3 linked regions of the Homo sapiens genome follow. The protein of the gene in region 2 interacts with the protein of the main gene of each other region in a biochemical or structural test. Each region holds a gene or a part of one and is shown on either strand. Other genes may lie near its edges. The genes, in order: FBXW11, DAPK1 and DENND1C.

Region 1 (2,749 bases), on a different chromosome or scaffold from region 2:
CAGGGCTTTCATTTTCAAAAGTTAGCATTCTCCTTTTGACCGTCCAAGTCATTATGAATTCTGACTTGTTGTATTAGGAACATGTTGGACAGTGGAAAATTTTCTCTGGATTGTTTTAGTAATATTTTTGGGATTATACTTCCTTTCTGTACCAATTTCTTTTAATTTAAAGAACTATAAGTCAGTTATATTATCTACCAACAGGTAATATAGCTCTTTCTTTTATTAACTGTTCTCTGTCCCCCAACCATCTCCTGATATTTGGTAGAGTAACACCTTTATACGTGTGCTTGCCTCCTAATTTAAAATACTGTATTCGCATGTAGATATAATGTACATAACAGTTTAACCTCAAAGTTGCTGGAGTCAGGGCCCCCTGTGCTTGAGACACTAATACAGAGTGTGTTCGCACTTAGCCATGGGCTGGGCTCAAGAACCTGATACCTGGGTTGATGTGGATTACCTAGAACCCTTCCTGCAGTATTCATACAGTGTTTTTATTTTGTTGTTGTCATTGCGTGTGTGTGGTTTGTGTGTGTTTTTAATGAGAATCTTGTTTTAAAATGTAATTTCTAAGGTTTAACACCAAAATGTTTTATTTGTTGTGGAGTATATATTATACAATAGAGAGGTACCTTAAACATTTTTTGTTCTTATTCTTTTTCTCATAAGTACTCCTGAGTACAAGTGGTCACCTCCCATAGTATTCATTTGGCTTCGCTGTCAAAAATCATTATTCTGTGCAGTCGTGGCCCTGGGAAGGGGAAATAAGAAGGCCCTGTTGACGGGCTGTCTTGGCTCTGGAATTCATGCATCCTGGCCTTGCCAAGGTTCTGGCAGGGCCTGCTGGTGTGTTGGAGCCTGCAGGGCAGGTCAGGCTGGTTCAGAGGCCCATGCTGAGGGGTGGGTGCTCTGAAGTGGAGTGAAGCCTCAAGCCCATGAATGCCACCCCAGTCATCTCTGGTGTCAGCTGCTGCTGTGGCCCCAGCAGGTTCTCAAAGCTCCCAAGTCCTCCCTACGACACAGCCCAAATGTGTAAATGGCACTGTTGCCCTGACAGTGCATGGAAAGGACGTTGGCATCCAATTGGCACTCCTTCTCCCTTATTCAATATTAGGTTTGATTTGCCCTTCGCCATTGTTTCCAAAGATCAAGGAATGTCAATAACATTTTAAAGGACCAATAAACAGCCTCCTATAAAGTAAACCTCTTCCCGTGGAAGCACACTCTACTACTAAAGGGAAGGCCCTGGGCTCTGATTTGTCCTTTGCATTGAGAACGGTGTGGGGATCAGTGTGTGTGTATGTGATTTGTTTATTGAGTTGGCTTTGCTTTTTTAGTTTTTCTTTTAAAAATAAAATCCTTCCTTCCCATGTTACTAAATTAATTTATGTTTTTGAGAGGTTGAGTCTCAAAGTGTAAACAATAAACCTCCATTCATAAGGTGGATGTTGTAAGCTTGATGGTGGTTGTGAAAGTGATTTAGCTTTGACCACTTTTCATCCTACAGCTTCAATATCAAACTGGTTAGGAAAGCCCAGGGGGAAGGGAGGGGGCAGGGGAGGAGGCAATTCTGAATGAATGAATGGATTTTTTGTTGTTTTTGCATGTTTAATATAGAAGTTCCCCTCGTTCCTTGGGAGATGATGGCCTTTGAATATGCAGACAACCTTTGAATTGTGCCTACTAAATTATAGCAGGGGACTTTGGCACCCAAGGAGTTCTGACTTTCTGGGATTATAATAGTAATTCCCAGCCATACTCTGGACTTTATTTTGCTAACCATAACTGAGCAAATGTAAATTACTGCTATATTAATGTTTTAAAGCACTGGGATAGTCTAATTCTAACTTGTAATTAATTATGTTTGCCAATTATCTGTTTGAAATAAATTTGTGTCTGAACAGCTATTGAAACTGTTAAATTGTACAGATATTATTCATGACAGCTTTGTACTGTGGAATGTGCTTAATAAAAAACAAAAAAGTTTGACTTTTGTCCAGTAAATTGCTAAGTAATGTCAATAAATCGAGTATGGGTATTATGCAGTGCACCTAATCTGGCTTCATGCAATTGTTACTTCAGCTACTGATTCAAAGCCAATACTCTTAATAAAGTGTTGCAATACTCTGACGTTCTGTTAAGAAATTTTTCAAAGAAACTGTTAAGTGCTGTTAGGAATTCAGTGACATACAATTAAAATTTATAGATCTTTAGAATCATCTGTTCTGTAAAATGAGTTTGAAGGCAAACTGGTTTTGGCGTGTGAGAATGTTGTAGTAGATGATATGATTCCTTGTCTTGGGCTTTTGCCGAAAGCTAGCTTGAACTTCAGGAGTTAGCTGAGGGCTAGCTAAGAACTCTTGCCCTGCAAATCTGCTTCCCACACATAATTAATTGCTTCACAAGTTACTGTCAACATGAAAATGGCCTCTGAGACATCCCAAGTGGCTTTCAGGTGTGAGTGGATCCTCCCCTTCTTGAAGAAGGGCCATGGAGGTGTGAGGGGCAGTTTCGCAGCCCTCTCCACCATAGCATCAGAAATGAATAGTTTTGTGTGTGCAAGTGTGTCACTGGTAGAGTATTGAAGCAGAAAAAGTCGAGTTAGTATCTGTAGGATTCTACTCAGAAATTCTATTCAGTAGGACTGAGTAGAAGCTGAGTTTTTTTGATAGCTAGGCTAAACTTCCCCCATTAGTCAACCCAGTTGGTAATGCGGACTTTTTGCATGAGATTAGAGTATTTCTAT
Region 2 (2,793 bases):
TTTCAGTCTCATCCTTTGTAGACACACCTATGTCTAGTTTTAATTTTATTCATCAGGACTTCTTTTCTCATTATGAAAGTTAATCATGTTTATTGTGGACAACTTGCTTGAAACATAAATGAACTATAAATGTAAGAAAGGCACGAAGGTCTTTTTGCTGTAGGTTTTCTCTTCCTCCTGGTGCCATCCCCATCATTTTTGTGTAGAAGTCGCAAAGCTTCCTCTGTTCCCTGTTGCCAAAACTAAAAGAGTCAGTTTGGTTTTTTGGTTCACCCGAGAAAAATCTAAGGGGCCTGTTTTATTTACAATGGGAAGAAATGTGAAAATTATCTGAACTCTTTTCACTTTCCCACACCATTCCTAATTTGAGTAATAATCGGCATCTCAATAACCCTGAGAGTTGAGGTGTAATGATTTTCTAGGTTTTGGACTGGGTTGTCCTGCTATGTGGGGTGACAACAGTAAAACCACAACAAGTAAAAAGAAATCCTTTTGAATTAAAGATCAAAAAAACTAATGCAACGAGCAACAGTTTATTTATAAAAAAAGAAAAAAACAAACAACTTTTTAACGACATTTTATAGATTAAGTAAAAATACCAGTATTAATATATATGTATATACATAGTGCATATATATATATACATATGATATAACATTAACATTACATGCTTCTCAGGACAGAAGAATTAGGACATGTTCCCTCCTATCAATTTAAAACTCGATCACAATTTAAAATCATGGAAGAAAACTTGCTTCCTTTATTTTCTGCTTTTAGACTTCAAGTACAGGAAGTTATGAAACCAGGATCTAAATGTGGAAACCATCTGCTATGCACCAATTATAAGGGACTGCCACAAATGATGAGTCAGGGGTCTTCTGAATTCTTACATAGGTCTCTGTAACCCTACAACTGTGTCAACCTTCTACCTGAGATGAGAGGGAATGATGAAGCATGACAGTGTGTAGGTTTCATGTGGACGTTCACATTGACATTGGAACAAAAGCAAACGGAAAAATGTCTTCCTAGAGCAACAACACTGATCATAAAATCACCCTGGAGGAGGATTCCCTTCTCCCCTTTCCTTGCCAAACAAAACAGAAAAACTGTCAGAAAACAATACAAAACAAAACTCAGGGTGAAGCACCTCTGGCGATGATCAGCATACAGCAAGGGACAGAGAGGTAGCGTTTCCTTGGTGACAGCTCCTGGCTGACTCCGATGATTTCAAACACACCCTCTTCTGCAAAAGGCACTCACATATTGTCTGTTTATAAATCATACAGTGGGATTCCATACATGGGAGTTTCTCCTACAAATATAAAAGAGATAAGCTGAGGAAATGGTATAACAAAGAAAAGCGTATAAGAAATACACATTTTGGATAAATATGCACTTTTCTTTTTTAAAGGACAATCAATATAGTAGTTAAAAAAAATGTCATTGAAAAGTTAGGAATTCCAGCAAAATTATCAGTAAGAAGCAAGGTACTGGAGGATGAGAGATGGAGTCCAAAACACTGAGAGGAGGTACACTAGCTTTTCAAGCGGCCAAAGTAAAAGATCTGTTCTGCTCTTAAACTGCAATGACCATCCACAGACAACGGAATGAGACGGGGAGGGAGGTAGCGGCAGAGAAACAGGTCAAGCCGGAGGGAGGAGTGGCATCCCCCTGGCTGTGGGTGCAGGAAGAAACACCCTCAGCATCTCCAAAGGGAAGGATGGGCTACATCACCCCCTTGCTTCTGCAGTCCAAACAGACCCTGCCCAAGCCAGAGGCTGCCCTCACCGGGATACAACAGAGCTAATGGAATTGTAAGAGGTGCCGCTGTTGCAGCTCGAGGCATAGGCCTCCTGGCCATTGCCATCCAGGTTGATTTTGAACACAGAGGATGCCTTCAGCAAAAAGTCTGCGGCATCCCGGCGACCCAGCTCCCTCAGTTTGGACATGAGGGTGCCCACTGTGCTCTCAGGGTAGGTGGTCCATTCCCGCAGCAGGGCGTGGAGGGGGCTGGGGAGGAAATCCTTGGGAGCCCCGTTACTGGTGTTGTACTTTGCCACGAGGTCAGGGAGGCCTAAGTTCATGGCGAGAAGGCACCAGTCCTTCCCCAGGGGGTCGGGCGGGTCCAGCAGGCGACTCAGTTTCCTCCGAGTGAGGAGGTTCAGGTCTGATGCATGGATGTCCATGCCGAGGCTGGCCTGTGAGTAGACGTCGTGACACCCGAAGCACATGATGCTGCTGAAGCTTTCCTTGTACCCCCCCATGGTGTTGGTCAGTGAGGTTTCCTTCAGAGTCTGTGCCCGGAAGAAGTCCCGTGGCTGGTAGATCATGACGGGCTCATGGTGCTCCCGCAGCTGCTGGGGGCTCAGGTAATGCTTCACGGTCAGGAGCCCTGGCAGCGTGGTGGCCATGACGTTCTCAATGGTGCTGCACACCGAGTCCAGCAGCAGGCAGCACTTGATCTTCTCCGTCTCCAGGCCGCGGACCTGGACCTCAATGCCCTGGCCGTGGTTGACCAGCAGCACCAGCAGCTCGGCCCCACGGTTGGCCAGCTTGCAGCCATTCACCCACAGGCGGATGTCCGCGTCGCCCTCTGTGCTTTGCTGGTGGATCCACCGGCACAGGTTCACCTGGACCTTGTGAAAGATGCCACATGGGAAGGGGGTGAGGTGTTCCACGGGCACGATGCGCACGCCACCATACACCATCACCTCGTCCTCCTCATCAGCCCAGGAGCGGTGCAGGTTGTCTGTCTTGATCAGGGCTGGGACGTCCACCATGGTCCCGCTGCTC
Region 3 (3,759 bases), on a different chromosome or scaffold from region 2:
TGAGTCTCAGGGTCCTCGAGTGTATGGGTTTCCAGATGTCTGAGTCTCTAGGTGTTGAGTCCTTGGGGCCCCTGAGAGATCTGAGTCCCTGAGTCCTTGGATCTCCCCGCCCTTCCGTACCTTTCCACATCAAAAGGGAAGCAGAATTTAGGCACCATCTGCATAGCTTCCTGGAGGTGAAGAAAAGCGCAGACTGCTTGGCCACTGAGGTCGGGCACCACCTCCCTGGGCTCCAGGTCCAAGAAACCAAGTCCCCTCCCCCTGGGAGACTGGCCCTCGCCCTGGGGGAGCAAGGAGCCAGCCTGAATACCTGGTCCCTGAAGTCTGGAGGGAACTGCCGCAGGATGGGGGGATCTGTAGAAGAGAGCACGCCTCTAAGTTCAGCGACCCAGGCCCACCCTCCCCTCCCACTCCCTCACTCCCAGGCTCCCAACTCACCCTCCTGCAGGGAGGCAGGGCAGGCCGCTTCGAAGAACCAATCAAACACAGCAGGGGAGCCCCCTCTGTGGGATGCAGAAGGGGTCCAGAGACTTGCTTCTATGCATGTGTGGTTGTGTCTGCCACTTTGCACACAAGTGTGGTTGTGTGTGCATGTGCCACAAGGTGCGTCGGCATGTGCATGACTCTGGGGGTTTGTGGCTGTGAGTGTGTGGTTGTGTGAGGCTGTGTGTGCAGCAGTGTTAATTGAACACACAAGTACAGGATGGAGTGAGAAAGTGTGACTGTGTGTGTGTGGCTGTGTATGATTGTGTGTGGCTGAGTGCATGGCTTTTGTGAGCAGGCAGTGTGTGTGTGATCCTGTCTGCTGTCTGCCTGAAAAGATGAGACTGTCTCCTATATCTGTGGCATGAGACTGCACAGATATGAAGGACAGCCCGTGCAGTCCCAAGCTAAGTGAATTACATCTCTCTCTCTCTATATATATATCCATCTATCTGTCTGTCTGTCTGTCTCTGTCTATCCATCCATCCATCCATCCACCCACCCACCCACCTATCCATCCACCCACCCACCTATCTATCTATCTATCTATCTATCTATCTATCTATCTATCTATCTATCTATCTATTTTTTTGAGATGGAGTTTTGCTTTGTCACCCAGGCTGGAGTACAGTGGCACGATCTTGGCTCACTGCAACCTCCACCCCACAGGTTCAAGCGATTCTCCTGCCTCAGCCTCCCTGTAGCTGGGATTACAGGTGCCCGCCACCACGCCCAGCTAATTTTCATATTTTTAGTAGAGACAGGGTTTCACATACTGGCCAGGCTGTTCTCAAACTCCTGACCTCAGGTGATCTGCCCGCCTCAGCCTCCCAAATTGCTGGGATTACAGGCTTGAGTCACTGCATCTAGCCATGCCATCTATATTTTCTTGTATAGATGTGAGTGTGTGTGCCCGAGCAAGTGAATGACATCTATATTTTCCTGTACAGCTGTGAGTGTCACTGGGTAACCGCGTGGGATCCTTGTGGGCTGGCTGTGTGTCTCTGTGTGTGAGACCCCATAGAACCCTCGTGGCTGGTCCCACATGTCTCATCAGAGAAAGGAGGGCAGGATACCTAGGTACTTACTGTAAGCCCTGCAATCTCTGCTTTCCTCCTCTGCCCCCATATCAAGCAGAAGAGGCAGCCTTGGGCTCAAGGAGAGAGACAGGGAGATCTAGAGGGAGATCAGCTGCACACACACTGTCCCGCCCAGTTGCACACACAGTCCCCACCATGGGTACCCCAGCACTTCACCCTCACGCCGACACAAGTCACACACGATCACCCACTCATACCAACACCCAGCCTCCCCTCTGCCCTGATCATCCGCCCTGTGGACCCCCTGAAGCCATCACTCAGACATACCAAGGACAAAGCTCAGAGGGGTACATGCATTCACAGAGCTATAGACATAATCACAGGAGCTGGATAGAGAGAGAGAGAGAGAGAGAGAGGAGGGGACCGAGAGTGGCCTGTCCCAGAGTGAAGGTCATAGCGGAGGCCCATGGAGTATCTGATTCCAGCCACCTGCCCTGGCAGGTCACTGCACCTCCCGGGCCTGCTCCAGCCCCAGCTCCCCTCTGCCCCGGCTCAGGCCTGGCCCGGGAATCTTGTACCAGAGAATGAGGGATGGGGTGGCTCTTACTCAGCTCTGGATTCCATGGTCCCTGCAGGGCCAGCCCAGCGGGGCCCTCTCCCCAGGGGTCCTGGGGGCCTGTGTATGCTGGGCCCCAAGCCGGCTCAGCTTCCTGTGTGGCTGAGAGAGGAAGTTTAACGGGTGACGTCCCCGGACAGAGGCCCTGCCCCCACCCCCGTGAGAAACCCAGGCATCCTGCCTGCTAATTATGTTGGGGATGGGTGGGCAATAAGTGGTCAGCCTGGGAAGGCAGACCCCCAGCTCCGTCCCCGCCAGGCTGGACTGTGTCTGGTTCCCCCCATCGTGCCTGGGCCCTCATCTCTCCTTCCCCGCTCCGCAGCAGCCAAGATTCACAGTCTGTCTATTAATGAAATGCCTCCCCGTCTCTTTCCCTTGGTCCATTTGGCCTGGACGGTCACTGGTGGACCACCAGAGGGAGCCACCTGTAAAGTGGACGGTGGGGGGGCCAGGGATGGGGACAAAGAGCACGAAGTACAGGCACAGGGACGGACAGACAGACACAGACACAGACAGTTACACGCTCAGGAAGTCATCAGCACAGACAAACCGAGTGCAGAAGAGCCAGAGACGACAGACATGGAGAGATAGGGAGTCCTACAGCTGGATCATAGTCCCAGGCCGGGCACAGTGGCTCACGCCTATAATCCCAGCACTTTGAGAGGCCAAGGTGGGAGGACCGCTTGAGCCCAGGAGTTCGAGACCAGCCTGGGAAACATGGCGAAACCCTGTGTCTATAAAAGCTACAAAAATTATAGCTGGCGGTGGTGGCACGCACCTATAGTCCCAGCTTACCCAGGAGGCTGAGTCAGGAGGATCGCCTGAGCCTGGGGAGTTTGAGGCCATAGTGAACCAAGATTGCACTACTGTACTCCAGCCTGAGCAACAAAGTGAGATCCTGTCTCAAAAAAAAAAAAAAACAACTTAGTCACAGTTACACACCCATTGTGCGCAGAAAGACAAGGTAAGCGGATCACTTGAGGTCAGGAGTTTGCAACCAGCCTGGCCAACATGGTGAAACCCTGTCTCTAATTAAAAAAAAATACAGGCCAGGTGCGGTGGCTCACATCTGTAATCCCAGCACTTTGGGAGGCTGAGGCAGGTGGATCACGAGGTCAGGAGTTCGAGACCAGCCTGGCCAAGATGGTGAAACCCAGTCTCTACTAAAAATACAAAGATTAGCCAGGCACGGTGGTGGGCATCTGTAATCCCAGTTACTCAGGAGGCTGAGGCAGAATTATTTGAACCTGGGAGGCGGAGTTTGCAGTGAGCCGATATCGCGCCGCTGTACTCTAGCCTGGGCGACAGAGCAGGACTCTGTCTCAAAAAATCAAAAACAAACAAACAAACAAAAAATTAGCTGGGCATGGTGGCATGTGCCTGTAATCCCAGCTGCTTGGGAGGCTGAAGCAGGAGAATCACTTGAATCCGGGAGGCAGAGGTTGCAGTGAGCCGAGATCGTGCCACTGCACTCCAGCCTGGGTGAAAGAGTGAGACTCCATCTCAAAAACAAAAACAAAAACAAAGCAAACAAACAAACAAACAAATGCAGAGACAGACAGAGACACAATAAACAGTTACACAGAGACCACAGCCATTGATACAAACAGAATAACAGAG

The links.
Region 1: the proteins of DAPK1 (region 2) and FBXW11 form a complex in vitro, tested with the Homo sapiens proteins (one large-scale study listed by BioGRID and IntAct).
Region 3: the proteins of DAPK1 (region 2) and DENND1C form a complex in vitro, tested with the Homo sapiens proteins (one large-scale study listed by BioGRID and IntAct).

The regions. Positions count from the first base shown.
Region 1 is NC_000005.10:171,860,933-171,863,681, reverse strand, and holds the end of FBXW11 (F-box/WD repeat-containing protein 11), read left to right. Parts: 3' UTR 1-2,133; downstream 2,134-2,749.
Region 2 is NC_000009.12:87,706,356-87,709,148, reverse strand, and holds the end of DAPK1 (death-associated protein kinase 1), read right to left. Parts: coding exon 1,785-2,793; 3' UTR 515-1,784; downstream 1-514. UniProt on the Homo sapiens protein: Calcium/calmodulin-dependent serine/threonine kinase involved in multiple cellular signaling pathways that trigger cell survival, apoptosis, and autophagy.
Region 3 is NC_000019.10:6,479,549-6,483,307, forward strand, and holds the start of DENND1C (DENN domain-containing protein 1C), read right to left. Parts: upstream 2,240-3,759; 5' UTR 2,148-2,239; coding exon 2,131-2,147; exon of another isoform or gene 932-2,130; coding exon of another isoform or gene 504-931; coding exon 439-503; intron 355-438; coding exon 311-354; intron 171-310; coding exon 121-170; intron 1-120.